Regions from separate parts of the Homo sapiens genome. Here region 2 is linked to region 1. Evidence: fine-mapped expression QTL. A gene starts in region 1. The other region holds a variant in brackets. All regions are shown on one strand. Distances are from middle to middle.

Evidence for each region.
Region 2: its variant is fine-mapped to the expression of RGL3 in whole blood (Lepik 2017, PIP 0.95).

Annotation. Positions count from the first base shown.
Region 1 is chr19:11,414,114-11,422,371 of GRCh38, forward strand. It overlaps RGL3 (ral guanine nucleotide dissociation stimulator like 3), which reads right to left and starts at 5,201. Exons shown (of 19, transcript NM_001035223.4): 1 at 5,133-5,201; 2 at 4,558-4,671; 3 at 2,723-2,946; 4 at 2,501-2,554; 5 at 1,824-2,035. The coding sequence starts at 5,165. ODAD3 (outer dynein arm docking complex subunit 3) reads right to left here. Exons shown (of 13, transcript NM_145045.5): 11 at 7,564-7,719; 12 at 7,015-7,099; 13 at 6,492-6,834. The coding sequence ends at 6,722. RefSeq lists an enhancer at 7,261-7,310.
Region 2 is chr19:11,328,078-11,336,470 of GRCh38, forward strand. RAB3D (RAB3D, member RAS oncogene family) reads right to left here. Exons shown (of 5, transcript NM_004283.4): 3 at 7,588-7,706; 4 at 7,370-7,494. Among named protein-coding and RNA genes, the nearest start is that of RAB3D, 7.4 kb to the right of the region's middle. The variant G/A (reference allele first, on the strand shown) is at 3,749.

The DNA of each region.
Region 1 (8,258 bases):
TTGGAATCAGCTGGAGAAATCATATATATATATATATATATATATATATATATATATATATATACACCTATATATATATACCTTTATATATATATATACCTTTATATATATATACCTTTATATATATATATACCTTTATATATATACCTTTATATATATATACCTTTATATATATATACCTTCATATATATACATATATATATATACCTTCATATATATATATATACCTTTATATATATATACCTTTATATATACCTTTATATATATATATACCTTTATATATATACCTTTATATATATATACCTTTATATATATATACCTTCATATATATACATATATATATATACCTTCATATATATATATATATATACACCTTCATATATATATATATATATATATATATATATATATATATACCTTTATATATATATAAATAACTGAGACTTTGTCACCAGGGATAGAGAAGTGGCTGCTACTTTGTAAATTGGACAGGAAGGTGGCCACTATAATCTGGAGATTAAGCGATGGGGATTAGGGATAGAGATGCTTTTGTGATGTGGATCAGATCAAATACAGATGGGTGAAAGATGATACTTCCTAAGCAGGATGCAATTATTCAGCAAACTAATCTGTGTTGTTCCTGCCCCTGGGGACAGAGCTGGGAGCAAGAACAACAGGTCCTCCTCTCATGCACTCACAGCCTATGAGATGAGCAAAAGCCAATAATCAAGTAAGGAGGCTACGCATGCACAATGGCTTATGGCTGTAATCCCAGCATTTTGGGAGGCCAAGGCAGGCAGATCACTTGAGTTCAGGAGTTTGAGACCAGCCTGGGCAACATGGCACAACCTCACCTTTACAAAAAAATTAGCCGGGCGTGGTGACATGCGCCTGTGGTCCCAGCTACTCAGGAGGCTGAGACAGGAGAATGGCTTGAGCCCAGGAGGTGGAGGTTGCAGTGAGCCAAGATTGTGCCACTGCACTCCAGCCTGGGTAACAGTGCGAGACTCTGTCTAAAAAAAAAAATAGATAAAAAAATAAAATTAAATTAAATTAAATTTAAAAAGAAATTCAAAAATAAGAAAAATTTTACAGGCTAGGTATAGTGGCTCGCGCCTGTAATGCCAGCAGTTTTGGAGACCCAGGCGGGAGGATCACCTGAGTCCAGGATGTTGAGCCTGCACTGAGCCATGATGGAGACACTGCACTCCAGCCTGAGCAACGGAGCAAGACCCTGACTCAAAAAAAAGAAAATAAAGACAAGTATCAAGGCAATGGTTTGTAGCTAGAAACACAGAGCATCCTGACCCAACGGCACCAAGGAGGGAAAAGTATTAGACACATGCTAATACTTCAGACAAAGAATTTGTTTTTTTTTTTAGACGGAGTTTCGCTCTGGTTGTCCAGGCGAGAGTGCAATGGCACGATCTCGACTCACCGCAACCTCCGCCTCCCGGGTTCAAACGATTCTCCTGCCTCAGCCTCCCGAATAGCTGGGATTATAGACATGCCCCACCACGCCCGGCTAATTTTGTATTTTTAGTAGGGATGGGGTTTCTCCATGTTTGTCAGACTGGTCTCAAACTCCTGACCTCAGGTGATACACCATCCTTGGCCTCCCAAACTGCTGGGATACAGGCGTGAGCCACCACGCCCGGCTGACAAAGAATTATTATCCCCATTGTAAAGATGAAGAAATTGAGGCTTAGAGTTTAAAATCTTGCTTAAGTTTTGTAGCTCTGAGAGGGGAGAGAAAGCCTGTGTGGGAAGAAGCAGACAGGAAAGGCCTTCTCAGAACACGACTGGATCTGAAAACCCCTCACCTGTCCACACCTGAGGCGGCTCCTCTTCCTGCTCTCGCTCAGCCTCCTCCAAAAAATCTTCCAGAAGCTTCTCTGCTTTTTGAGCCTCAGCACTCCCTGGGGCCGCCCAGCCCAGAAAGGTTCGGACACTGCCCAGGTCCGAATGGGCAGGGTGGTCTCGGAAATCCTGAGGGTGGTCCTGCAGCCAGGAGCCCAGCACTGACACCACAGCCCTGGCCAGAGAGGCAGGGTCTCAGAGCTGGGTCCAGAGTGGGGGACATAGAATATGACTCCTGGTACCTTTTTTTTTTTTTTTTTTTTGAGATAGAGTCTTACTGTGTCACCAAGGCTGCAGTGCAATGGCCTGATCTTGACTCACTGCAACCTCAGCCTCCCGAGTAGCTGGGACTACAGGCATGCGCCACCACACCCAGCTACCTTTTTTTGTTGTTGTTGTATTTTTAGTAGAGACAGGGTTTCGCCATATTGGCCAGGATGGTCTCTAACTCCTGACCTCCAGTGATCCACCTGCCTCGGCCTCCCAAAGTGTTGGGATTACAGGCATGAGCCACCACGCCCCACCTGACTCCCAGTCTCTTATTACCCAACCTGCAATTTTCAAAACCCCAGTCCGACTGCTAACCTTTGACCTCTTGGATTTCCCTCCCCGCACTCCCCTATCTGGATGAAGGACCCACCTCAGGTTCTTGTTGAAGCTCAGATCTTGTACCGCTGTCTTCTTGATCTCTACCCTGGGAAGAGGCCCCCCAGCAGGTGAAGAAGGGGGAACCTAGAGGGGGCTTAGGAAGAGGGCTCTGGGTCTGGGAGGTGTTTCCAGGTTCCACACCTGAGGAGGTGGAGGGGGGTGCCCAGTTGGGGTTCTAGGGTGGAGAATACGGAGGTTATGGTTCGCTACTGACCCGGGAGGTGGGGGCGGTGGCATTGGTGGCAGCAGAAAGCCCAGCAGGCAGGCAGTGGGTACAAAGGTCCGGTAGGTGGCCAGGAAGGCGGGCATGAAGCTGGGGTCCTGCTCACGGTCTCCAAACACCAACTCTCCCACCAGCCGCTCCAGGCGCGCTGCCCTCAGCACCCTCACCTTGCTGGTTCGATAGTGGAGGAAGGTATTGGCAATGGGGCTGGGAGCCTGCAGGAGGGGAGAGGTGGCCATGAGAGAGCAGGAGTGGTCCTCACAGCACCCCTTCTCTAGTCACATTCATCACTAGCACCACTCTTTTTTTTTTTGTTTTTTTTTTTGAGACAGAGTCTCACTCTGTTGCCCAGGCTGGAGTGCAGTGGCACGATCTTGGGTCACTTCAACTTCTGCCTCCTGGGTTCAAGCAATCCTCCTTCCTCAGCCTCCAAGTAGCTGAAACTACAGGCGCACACCACCAAGCCCAGCTAATTTTTGTATTTTTGTAGAGATAGGGTTTCACCATGTTGGTCAGACTGGTCTCGAACTCCTGACCTCAAGTAATCTGCCCCCCTTGGCCTCCCAAAGTCTCCCAAAGGGCTAGGATTACAGGCGTGAACCACCGTGCCCAGCCCCTAGCACCACTTTTTTTTTTTTTTTTTTGAGACAGAATCTCACTCTGTCACCTAGGCTGGAGTTCAGTGGCGTGATCTTGGCTCACTGCAACCTCCGCCTCCTGGGTTCAAGCAATTCTCTGCCTCAGCCTCCCAAGTATCTGGGATTACAGGCACCCGCCACCAAGCCCAGCTAGTTTTTTCGTATTTTTAGTAGAGACGGTGTTTCACCGTCTTGGCCAGGTTGGTCTTGAACTCCTGACCTGATGATCCACTTGCCTCGGCCTCCCAAAGTGCTGGGATTACAGGCGTGAGCCACCTCGCCCCGCCTGTAGCACCATTCTTTCATGTGATTCCTCTGTCTCCCGGCTTCTTGGAGTTATTGTTTTGGTTTGTTTTTTTTAGAAACAGGTCTTGTTTTGTTGCCCAGGCTGGGGTGCAGTGGCACAATCATAGCTCACTGCAGCCTCCAAGTCCTAGACTCAAGCGGTCCCTCTGCCCCAGCCTCCTGAGTAGCTGGGACCACTGCTGGGCATCATCACGCACAGCTAGTTTTTTAATTTTTATTTTTATTAGAGAGAATCTTGCTGTGTTGTCCAGGCTGGTCTCCAATTCCTGGCCTTCTGCCTTGGTCTCTCGAAGCGCAGGGATTATAGGTGTGTGCCCCACTCCCTGCCCGCTTGAAGTTATTGTTCCTCCCCATCCACAAATAGCTCCTGCAACTTGCCCTGGAAACCCTCCCTCTCCCATGCCCTGTCCCCTACTCCCTCTCCCGTCCCCTCCCCCTCCCGTCCCCTCCCCCCACCCCCCCGCCCCCGCCCCACACACTCTTTTCCACCCAGGGCTTCCCTCAGCCCTCCTGTCGCGCTTCACTGGCTGCCCCATCCGCCCTCACCTAGCCACTTCTAAACCAACCCCATTCCACCTTCCAGCCCCGGCCCTCTAAACCTGCCTTTCCCAACTCTGCCGTCCAGTTCTGTCCTTACCAAGTTGTCCCTAGGCTCCTCTCGGGAACTGCGCGGCCATCGCCTGGCCCCACCCCATTCCCTGGATCTCCCCCCACTTACCTGGCCGCCCCCAGTCCCCTTTCTACCTGGTCGCCTCATCTGGTCGCCTCCGAGCCCCTCCCTTCCTTCCGCCCACTGCACCTGGCGGCCTGTGCTCGGCTCTCCAGCTCCGCCCTCAACTGGTCGCTTCCGGCCCCGCGCCACCCACCAAACCCCCTCCTCACCTGGCTGCCCCCGGGGCCCTCCGCCGGGCTCCTGCGCTGACTGCGCTGCCGCCGCAGGGAGACACTGTACACCGCGCCGTCCTCGGTCTCTTCACCCCAGTCCTGCAGCGGTGCCTGGACGCACAGGCGGACTCAGGGCACCAAAGGGGCACAGGTCCTGGGGCCTCAGCCTCCTTGGCCGCTCGGACTCGGGCCGAGTCCTCCTGCTGCATCCCCACGCCCCTTCCCGGCCAGAAGCTGCGAGACTAGGGCTGGGGTCCCAGGCTAGTCCCCTCCTCGCTGCGGGTCCCCTCCTCCCAGGTCCTGAGGACATGGGGTGGCATTTGGGGATGTCCCAGGGCCCAGTCTAATAGAACCTGTCTCTAGCTCTTTCTGCCGACTGCGCTCAGAGACTCGCGCCCCCATCCCTAAGAGGAACCAGTCGCTTCACTGGGTCAAGGGCCGCGAGTCCCCAGGAGGGGACTCCAGGGCAAGTTCAGATTGGGAGCAGATACCGTCCGACGGGCGGGCGCTTGGAGTTTCTGGACCTGCGGGTCACCAGGGATGCGGGGTCCGGGGATCCCTTGTCCCCTTACCAGGGCCAGCTCTTTGCCTGCTGTGCGCTCCATGGCCGGCGCCCGTCCCTCTCAGTGGCGCCGCTGAGTGAGGCGGAAGGGCCGGCGGGTGGCGGGTGGCGGGCGGCGGGCAGTGGCCGGGCGCTGAGGCCAGAGGGGCGGAGCGGCCGAGCTGCTGGGGCGGGGCGGGGCAGGGCAGGCCGGACCCAGCCTCTGGGTGCCTCCAGCCGGACCCAGCGCCAGCCCAGGAGAGGTCCTGGCTCTTCCGCTGGGTGCCTATCAATCTGTCCCCAGAAGAAAGGACATATCTGTCCCCAAGGGGTCTTTTTTGTATCCCCAGATGTGGGGGAGCTCCTGTGTGGGGGCATGTGTGTGTCCCCAGACCAGAGTCCTCTGTCCTCCAGTGGAAGGGGCTAGCTTGATCAAGTGTGGGGGCATCTTCCACTTTTTATTATTATTGCTATTATTTTGAGATGGAGTCTCGTTCTGTCACCCATGCTGGAGTACAGTGGCTTGATCTTAACTCACTGCAACCTCCGCCTCCCAGATTCAAAGGATTCTTGTGCCTCAGCCTCCCAAGTAGCTAGGATTACAGGTGCCGCCACCATGCTCAGCTAATTTTTGTATTTTTTGTAGAGGCGGGGTTTTGCCATACTTGCCAGGCTGGTCTCAAACTCCTGGCCTCAAGAGATTCGCCCACCTCAGCCTCCCAAAATGCTGGGATTACAGGCATGAACCACGGCGCCCAGCCTTATTATTTTTTAGAGACAGGGTCTCACTCCTGTTGCCAAGGCTGCAGTGCAGTGGCTTGATCTTGGCTCACTGCAATCTCCGCCTCCTGGGTTCAATCCATTCTCCTGCCTCAGTCTCCCAAGTAGCTGGGACTACAGGCATATGCCACCATGCTCAGCTTTTTTTTTTTTTTTTTTTTTTTTTTTTTTTTTTTTGGTAAAAACTGGTTTTCACCATGTTGCCCAGGCTAGTCTGGAACCCCTGGGCTCAAGCGACACACCCAGCTCAGCCTCCCAAAGTGCTGGGAATATAGGTATGAATGAGCCACTGCACCCCGCCCTTATTTTATTTATTGAGACAGGGTCTGGCTCTGTGGCCCAGGCTGGAGTGCAGTAGCACGATCATAGCTCACTGCAGCCTGGAGCTCCTGGACTCAAGTGATCCTCCCAACTCAGCCTCCCAAAATACTGGGATTACAGGCATAAAACCACTACATCGGGCCATCTCCCATTTTTAAGCTCCATCTGCGTCACTAGCTGATGGGAGTCATCATGACCCAGGTTGGAGGAGGCAGTCTGTGGCCCTGGGTTTTCAGGGACAGCCGTCTCTTGGGTGGTGCAGGGTCAAAAACAGATGAATACCCAGGGGCATGGTCGGTAACATTTATTGCGCAACTCTGAGGCCGGGGCGGACCCAGCTGGGGAGATTTACTGTGGGAACGTCTGGCCCGGCCCCTTCCTCCCCTCCGGGCGCCGCTGGCCGCCTCCGTTCCCGGTCCGGGCCGCGTTCAGCCCCTGAAGGGGCCCCGTGGGGCCTGCGCTAGACCCGGAGGGATCGGGGGCTCCGAAGGGGGCCGCCTGGTGGGTGTCAGGACGAGTCTAGGACCTCCGAGAGCGACGGTGCTTCTTGTGACTTTCGATTAATTTCTGGGAACGGATCTTGAGTGATGCGCGGGTCACTACCTCGTTGTCCTCCTCCTCACTCTCTTCGTCTAAGGGGGGTGGGGGGATGAGCAGGGAGCGATGTGGGATCCAGGTCCCCATCCCTGGCTCCCCTTCCCTTTACCACCCCACTCCACCCCCACCTTGGCCCTGAACAGGGTATCTGACAACCTCCTGCTACCCAGCTTGGGGCCCCAACCGCACCCCTTCATCCCCCCACCCATACTGACCAAAAAACTTGTCCTTGGAAGTGGCAAGGGGCAGGGCGATGCGGGTGTTGTATTCGGGCAGCCTTCCCTCTAAGCTGGCGAGGAACTAAGCGGGGATGGGAAGCGAGAGAGGAAGGTGGGCGGGGCCAGGGGCCACCGAGAAGTCACGTTCCCCCTCCTCCCTACCCCATTCCGAGATATGCCCTAGTTCCAACTGGAGACCACTGCCCACTCCCATCCCTCCTTAAGCAGGCACCTTGATACCCAGCTTCACCCCCTCATCACTCAGGTCCGCCCCTGGTCTCTGGGGCCCTGCCACTAGGCCTCTCCCCATCCGGATACCCCAGCCGCGTCCTCTAGCCTCACAGGACCCGCCTGCACCTCTTCTGGTTTCTTCCCTCGTGGCTCGGGCTCACCCCTGGCTCGTCAAACCTCGCCCGTTGTCCCCGAGACCCCTTCCTGGCTGATCAGCCTGCAATCTGGTCTCCCGAAGTTGCCCCCGGTTCCCTGGTTTTCCGACCCAGCCCTACTCCTAGATCTCTGGAGCTCTGCCCCATGGCTGCAGGGCACCTCGCGGTTAGCGATGTGGCACAGCATCTCCTGCACGTCGTGGCCCTGGAGCTGCGCCTGCAGTTTCAGCAGCTTTTCCTCCACGAGGCCCAGCAGGTTTGGCACATAGTTATCTGCCTGGGGATCCAGCTCCTTTCCCGCGAAGCGGCCGTCCTCCTGCGGCCAGGGTAGAGCCGGGTCAGCCGAGAGGGGTGGGGCCTCTTGGAAGGCTCCACCCAGGGGCGGGGCTTTTCTTTCGGGGGCGGGGCCTAGGAGGTAAGGGCCCACCTGCAGGGTCGATCCTAGCCATTGGGGGCGGGGACTTAGGTCAAGGCCACGTCTGTGATGGGGGAGCCTCTGAACTCTAACTCTATATGTAAAGGTTTCGGGGAGGCCTCTTGGGAACAGTAAGGATTCGAGGGAGGCCATTGTGGGATGGCCTCCTGAAGAAATGGCCCTCTGCTGCGGGCAGGATAGGTCTTCTGTCTCGGGCTGCTCCAGAACTGCAGATAGGTCTCCGAGCTTTTCGGGGACAGGGTGGGACTTCTTTCCCTTGGAGGCGGAGCTTGAGACGGGACAGGGTCTCTGACGTCTTGGGCTTCCTTGGGGAGTGAGAGCTTCCCCAGGGAGGTGGGGCGGGGACTCTGAGGAATGGGGTGGGGCTTCCCCTGTGGGCGGGGCCTCTGACGTCCGGGACAGAGGATGTGGCAGGCCAC
Region 2 (8,393 bases), 86 kb before region 1:
AATACCAGCATTTTGGGAGGCCAAGGTGAGCGGATCACTTGAGGTCTGGAGTTTGAGACCAGCCTGGCCAACATGATGAAACCCCGTCTCTACTAAAAATGCAAAAATTAGCTGGCCATGGTGGTGCACACCTGTGATCCCAGCTACTTAGGAGGCTGAAGCAGGAGGATCACTTGAACCTGGGAGGCGGAGGTTGCAGTGAGCCGAGATTGTGCCATTGTACTCCAGGCTGGGTGACAGAACAAGATATTATCTCAAAAAAAAAAAAAAAAAAAAGAAGAAGGTTGGGGGGTGCCAGGCGTGGTGGCTCACGCCTGTAATTCCAGCACTTTGGGAGACGGAGGTGGGCGGATCACGAGGTCAGGAGTTCGAGACCAGGGCCAATACGGTGAAACCCCGTCTCTACTAAAAATACAAAATTTAGCTTTGTGTGGTGGCACGTGCCTGCAGTCCCAGCTACTCAGGAGGCTGAGGCAGAAGAATTGCTTGAACCCGGGAGGTGTAGGTTGCAGTGAGCCGAGATTATGCCACTGCACTCCAGCCTGGCAACAGAGCAAGACTCCATCTCTAAATAAATAAATAAATAAATATTAGCCAGGTGTGGTGGCATGCACCCGTAGTCCCACCTACTTGGGAGGCTGAGGTGGGAGGATGACCTAAGCCAGGGAAGTTGAGGCTGCAGTGAGCTGAGGTCATGCCATTGCACTCCAGCCTGGGCAACAGAGTGAGACCCTGTCTCAAAACAAAAACACAAAGAAATGTATGGAGATAGAGATAAAAGTAATTTGTAATCTCATCACTTGGAAACAATTACTGTTGGCGTTTTGCTATTTAGCTTTCTAGTCTTTATTCATCTTTTTTTTTTTTTTTTTAAGACAGAGTCTCCCTCTGTTGCCCAGGCTGGAGTGCAGTGGTATAATCATAACTCACTACGGCCTTGACTCTTGGGCCCCCCTCAGTCTCCCAAGTAGCTGGGACTATAGGGGTGTGCCACCACACACAGCCGATTTTTGGTATTTTTTATAGGGGTGGGGCTTCACCATGTTGCCCATGCTGGTCTCTAACTGCTAGACTCAAGTGATCCTCTGCCTTGACCTCCCAAAGTGCAAGGATTACAGGCATGAGCCACCATGCCCAGCCTTTAGTCTTTTTCTATATAAATATGTCATTTGTTGGGGTTAGGTTTGTAGGGGATGTGTGTGTGCACATGTATGTGTGTCTGGCTTTTTTTCCTACAAAATTGGAATCAGGCCAGGCGTGGTGGCTCACACCTGTAATCCCAGCAGTTTGGGAGGCCGAGGCAGCGGATCACCTGAGGTCAGGAGTTTGATACCAGCCTGACCAACATGGTGAAACCCCATCTCTACTAAAAATACAAAAGTAGCCAGGCGTGGTGGCACATGCCTGTAATCCCAGCTGTTCGGGAGGCTGAGGCAGGAGAATTGCTTGAACCTGGGAGGCGGAGGTTGCAGCGAGCCAAGATTGTGCCACTGCACTCCAGCCTGGGCAACAAGAGCGAAACTCCATCTCAAAAAAAAAAATAAAACAAAAGAAAAGAAAAAAAAATTGGGATCAAATTCTGTGTCCTGCTTTGTATGCCAATCTTCTTTTTGTGTGTGTGTGAGATACAGGCTCACTCCATCACCCAGGCTGGAACGCAATGGCGCGATCTTGGCTCATTGCAACCTCCGCCTCCCGGGTTCAAATGGTTCTCATACCTCAGCTTTCCAAGTAGCTGGGATTACAGGCACGTGCCACCACACCCAGCTAATTTTTGTATTTTTGGTAGAGACAGGGTTTTACCATGTTGGCCAGGCTGGTCTCGAACTCCTGACATCAAGTGATCTGCCCACTTCAGCCTCCCAAAGTGCTAGGATTACAGGCGTGAGCCACCGAACCTGGCCTGTACTCCAATATTTTAAACATAATAACAGAAAGTGAGAATCCCCCTTTACCCCGAGACCCCAGATATAATCCGCAAGTAGGTGTGGAAAGCACCTCCAAGTATTCCAGCCCATCGCGGGCGTTAACTGATTTCACCACTTCCAGGCTAACTGGGGATCCAGGGCCCTGCCCCACAGAACAGAGATCCAGTTTCTCCAACAAAGCAATGGCAAGAATAAAAGGGGAAAGGGACTGGTTATGGCTTAGAGGTCAGCAAACCTCCTCTGTAAAAGGCCAGATCGTAAATATTTTAGGCTTTCTGGGTCATATGGTCTCTGTCTCAATTACTCAATTTCACGCTTGAAGCACTGTTTATACCCTTTTCTGTATTGAGACAGCCTGTAATCACAGACGTGTGATTACCATAAAAATAGCAACCATAGACAATGCATCAACAAATAGGCATCAACTGAGCACGGGTGTGAGTTCACTCCTGTGATCCCAGCACTTTGGGAGGCCAAGGTGGGAGGACTGCTTAAGCCCAGGAGTTCAAGATCAGCCCAGACAACATGGCAAGACCTATCTCTTAAAATTTTTTTCTTTTTTGAGACGGAGTCTCGCTCTCTTGCCCAGGCTGGAGTGCAGTGGCACGATCTCGGCTCACTGCAACCTCTGCCTCCCAGGTTCAAGCAATTCTCCTGCCTCAGCCTCCTGAGTAGCTGGGATTACAGGTGTGTACCACCACACCCGGCTAATTTTTTTGTATTTTTAGTAGAGACGGGGTTTCACCATGTTGGCCAGGGTGGTCTCAAGCTTCTGACCTTGTGATCCACCCGCCTCGGCCTCCCAAAGTGCTGGGATTACAGGCATGAGCCACTGCGCCCGGCAAAAAAATTTTTTTTTAATTAGGCAGGTGTGGTGGAGTACACCTGGCATCCCAGCTACTTGGGAGGCTGAGGTGGGAGGATCACTTGAGCCCAGGAGTTGGAGGCTGCTTTGAGTTATGATCGTGCCACTGCACTCCAGCCTGAGCACCAGAGAGAGACCTTGCCTCAAAAAAAAAAAAAAAATTTAAAAAATAAATGGTTGGGAGGTTGAGGCGGGTGGATCACCTGAGGTCAGGAATTCCAGACCAGCCTGGCTAACATAGTGAAACCCCATCTCTACTAAAGATACAAAAATTAGCCAGGCCCCGTGGTGGTGGGTGCCTGTAATCCCAGCTACTCAGGAGGCTGAGGCAAGAGAATCACTTGAACTGGGGAGGCGGAGGTGGCAATGAGCCGAAATCACGCCATTGCACTCCAGCCTGGGCGACAAGAGCAAGACTCCGTGTAAAAAAAAAATTCTTTTAAAAGGGTATAGCTGTGTCTCAGAAAAACTTCATTTATAGATACAAATTTGAATTTCATATAAATTTCCCATGTCATATTATTTTTTTTCAACCACTTAAAAATGTAAAAACCAACCAGGTGCCGTGGCTCATGCCTGTAATCCCAGCACTTTGGGAGGCTGAGGCAGGCCGACTGCTTGAGCCCAGGAGTTCAAGACCAGCCTGGGCAATATAGTGAGACCTCATCTCTACAAAAAATAAAAATAAAAAATTAGCCAGTGTGCTGGCTTATACTAGTAGTCCCAGCTACTTGAAAGGCTGAGGCAGCAGAATCACTTGAGCCCAGGTGTCTGAGGCTACAGGGAGCTTTAAACTTATTTTGTAGAGTTGGGGTCTCACTATGTTGCCCAGGCTGGTCTCTAACCCCTGGGCTCAAGCAATCCTCCCTCCTCAGCCTCCTAAAGTGGTGGGATCACACCACTGTACTCCAGCCTGGGTGAAAGAGTGAGGCTCTGTCTCTATTATTTAAAAAAC[G/A]ACGACGACAACAAAACAGCTGGAGTTGCATAGTGAAGTGTTTACAGACAAAAGGTTTCGATGTCAAGGGTTTGCTCTCAATGCTCTAGGAAAAAAAGGAAAAGTATTTTGGGGGAATAGATGATTCAAGATTGAAAAAATGTTGAGACCTAATTAAGCTGAATAATGTTTTATCAAAGTCTATTATACATTCCTTTCTACTTGTGAATGTATTTGAACTTTTCTTAGATGGAGTTTCACTCTTCTTACCCAGGCCGGAGTGCAATGGTGCGATCTCAGCTCACACAACCTCCGCCTCCTGGGTTCAAGTGATTCTCCTCCCTCAGCCTCCTGAGTAGCCGGAATTACAGGCATGCGCCACCACGACCGGCTAATTTTGTATTTTTAGTAGAGATGAGGTTTCACCATGTTGGTCAGGTTGGTCTCAAACTCCTGACCTCAGGTGATCCGCCTGCCTCGGCCTCCCAAAGTGCTGGGATTACAGGCGTGAGCCACCACGCCTGGCCGAACATTTCTCATTTTATTTCATTGTTTTTTGAGACAAGGTCTCACTCTGTCACCCAGGCTGGCATACAGTGGTGCAATCTTGGCTCAATGCAACCTCTGCCTCCCAGGCTCAAGCGATCCTCCCACCTCAGCCTCCTGAGTAGCTGAGACTATAGGTGTGAGCCACCATGCTTAGCTAATTTTTGCATTTTTTTGTAGAGACAGGGTTTACCATGTTGACCAGGCTGGTCTCAAAGTCCTGGGCTTCAGCGATCTACCCACCTTGCCCTCCCAATGTGCTGAGAGTATTTGAACATTTTTATCACAAAAAGTTATTATTTTCTTCCTTTTTTGAGACAGGGTCTCGCTATATTGCCCAAGCTGGTCTCAAATTCTTGGCCTGAAGCAATCCTCCTAATTCAGTCTCCAGAGTAGCTGGGATTACAAGCACATGCCACCATTCCTGGCCAAAGTTATTTTTTTAAAAAAGTGTAGGCCGGGACTATAAAAACCAACCAGGTGCAGTGACTCCATCTCAAAAAAAAAAAGTGTTAAGAACATCTGTGAATCAAGCTGGCAGATTTCTTGCCTCATGTGTCCAAAGAAATATATGTAAAAATGACTGCTGCAGCTGCATTTGTCAGAGGAAAAGGCTAGAAATAATCTCCATGGCTGTCAACAGAGGAAAAGGTTAAGGAAACACGAAATGGAATAGTACACAGCCATGCAAAAGAATGAGCCAGCTCTGGGGCTGATGGAGAAATATTTCTTTTTTTTTTTTTTTTTGAGAAAGAGTCCTGCTCTTCTACCCAGGCTGGAGTGTAGTGGCGTGATCTTGGCTCACTGCAAGTTCCGCCTCCCGGGTTCACACCATTCTCTTGCCTCAGCCTCCCGAGAAGCTGGGACTACCGGCGCCCACCACCACGCCTGGCTAATTTTTTTGTATTTTTAGTAGAGATGGAGTTTCACAGTGTTAGCCAGGATGTTCTTGATCTCCTGACCTCATGATCCGCCCTCTTCGGCCTCCCAAAGTGCTGGGATTACAAGCGTGAGCCACTGCGCCCGGCAGAGAAATATTTCTAGGATATATTATTTAGTAGAAAAGTTCAAAGTGCAGGAAAGGGTATATACAGTAGGGAACATCTGTGTAAAACAAAAAAGTAGCCAATGTGTTGTCAATGCCTGTGGGTGCTCAGCATATTTCTGGAAAGAGATACAAGAATCAGAGAAGCTGGGAGACCAGAACTGCAGGTGGGGAGTGGGTTATTGCCTTAGTCTCTTCCTGTGCCTTCTGAATTTTGCACATAGGGTGCTGGCTTGGATGGGGCTTATGGGAAAGCTGGGGTTAAAAACTGATTGCAAGCATCAGTTTCTTTCTTTCCTTTTTTTTTTTTTCTTTTGAGACAGAGTCTCCCCCCATTGCCCAGGCTGGAGTGCAGTGGCGTGATATCGGCTCACTGCAGCCTCCACCTCTCAGGTTCAAGTGATTCTTCTGCCTCAGCCTCCCAAGTAGCTGGGATTACAGGCGTCTGTCACCATGCCCGGCTAATTTTTGTGCATTTTTAGTAGAGACGGGGTTTTGCCATGTTGGCCAGGCTGGTCTAGAACTCCTGGCCTCAGGTGATCTGCCTGTCTCAGCCTCCCAAAGTGCTGGGATTTCAGGCATGAGCCACCACGCCCGGCCACAAATAAAGTTTTATTGGCAAACAGTCACACCCATTCATTTATGCATTGTCTGTGGCTGCTGTCATGCAGAGTTGGGTAGTTGCCATAGAGACTGTATGGCCAAAAATATTTACTATCTGGCCCTTTAAGAAAAGGTTTGCTGACTCCTGGACTAAAGAAAGCAGTCGTATCCACTATTTTGCTAGAACAAAACAGCCAGGCACGGTGGCTCACGCCTGTAATCCCAACACTTCGGGAGGCTGAGGCAGGTGGATCACCTGTCAGGGGTTCAAGACCAGCCTGGCCAACATGGCAAAACCCCATCTCTACTGAAAATACAAAAATGAGTCAGGCATGCTGCGCACACCTGTAATCCTGGATACTCAGGAGGCTGAGGAAGGAGAATCACTTGAATGCAGGAGGTAGAGGTTGCAGTGAGCCAAGATCGCACCACTGCACTCTAGCCTGGGCAACAGAGGGAGACTCCATCTCAAACAAAAACAAAAACAAACCATAAAGAACATCCCCTTGGGCTGGTGTGGTGGCTCATGCCTGCAATCCTAGCACTTTGGGAGGCTGAGGAGGGAGGATCACTTAAGGTCAGGAGTTCGAGGCCAGCCTGGGAAACATAGCGAGACCCTATCTCCACGCAAAATTAAAAAAAAAGGCCAGGCATGGTGCCTCACGCTTGTAATCCCAGCACTTTGGGAGGCCAAGGCGGGCAGATCACGAGGTCAGGAGATGGAGACCATCCTGGCTAACATGGTGAAACCCCATCTTTACTAAAAATATAAAAAATTAGCTGGGCATGTGGCACGCGCCAGTAGTACCAGCTACTTGGGAGGCTGAAGCAGGAGAATTGCTTGAACCTGGGAGGTGGAGGCTGCAGTGAGCCAATACGGCACCACTGCACTCCAGTCTGGGTGACAGAGTGAGACTCCAACTCAAAAAAATAAAATAAACCTGGGAAGCGGAGCTTGCAGTGAGCCGAGATCGCGCCACTGCACTTCAGCCTGGGCGACAGAGCGAGACTCCGTCTCAAAAAAATAAAAAATAAAAAAATAAAGAACATCCCCATCCTTTTCCATGGCTGCATAGTATTCCACCATGTGAATATACTTTATGTCCACTTGGTTCTCCAACTGTGAGACACCTGGGGGGGATCTGTAGGTTTCACTCCTACTAATACTACTACTACACTCCACACACCATATCCCACATGGGTGAGGATATCTCTAGGATCAATTTCCAGAAATGGTTTTGCTGGGTTCCCAGGGGATAGGCAGTGGGGCAGTGGGAGTTCCTGCGCGTGGATCCCCTGCAATTAGACGGGACATGTGGCATACACATGGGTATCTTCCTGGGCAGATCCTCAAAGGATCAGTGACTGGGTTGGACCCTGAATCAGAGGATGGGGATGAGGGTTTGGTTCTGGGAGACCAGGGCCTGTGGCCCAGGCTGGGCACTAACCAAGGTCGTCGGCGAGCCTCCGGCCATCCTCAGCAGGCACAACACGTTCGTCCTCCAGGTCACACTTGTTCCCCACCAGGATGACCTGGGCGTTGTCCCAGGAGTAGGTCTTGATTTGCGTGGCCCTGCAGAGTTACCAGTGGTGAGCCATGAGCCGGGGGGGTTAGGGGTCAGAGGAGAGGGCAAAGATCAGGGGTCCATGATCAGCAAGCACTCACCAGTCCTGCACAGCGGCAAAGGATTCCTGATTGGCGATGTCATACATGAGCAGGAAGCCCATGGCTCCCCGGTAGTAGGCCGTGGTGATGGTGCGGTAGCGCTCCTGGCCCGCTGTGTCCTGGACAAATGGCAGTGGCAGTTGGCTGGGAACTACCTGTTTCCCAGTCCACCCCTGTCTTAGAGGGGCACTGCCCTGTACTCATAGCCCCAGCCTTACGGGGGAGACACAGACTTGCTTGTACAACCTCTGGTCTGATGGAGAATACACAGATCCTGCCCTCACAACCCCAGTCTGATGGGGGAGGCATGGATTCATTACCAAGGGATCTCCCCAGTCTGATGAGGGAGAGACTTGGGCTTGCCCTTGAGGGGTTCCAAGTCTCAGGGGTCAGTGGCCTCTCACAGACTTATGAGCCCCTTTGACCTTGTCTCTAAGAACCAACTGGGCCAGATGGTACCATCCTGACAGGACACCTTGGTACTCTTGCTACCACGATGATTGTTACCAGCGGCTAAGTTGGGAGAGGGAGCTAGGTGTGACTCTGCAGACCAGGTCGGTCCAATGGGGGTCCCAGGGTCCCCTCTAAGATGGTACCCAAAACTCTTCCCTGTTGGTCACCAGCACCTGGGACCTTTCTTTTTTCTTTCTTTCTTTTTTTAATAGATGGGGTCTTGCCCTGTCACCCATGATGGAATGCAGCGGTGCAATCATAGCTCACTGCAGCCTCGAACTCCTGGGCTCAAGCAATCCTCTTGCCTCAGCCTCCTGAATAGCTGAGACTACAGGCGGGAGCTACCATGCTGG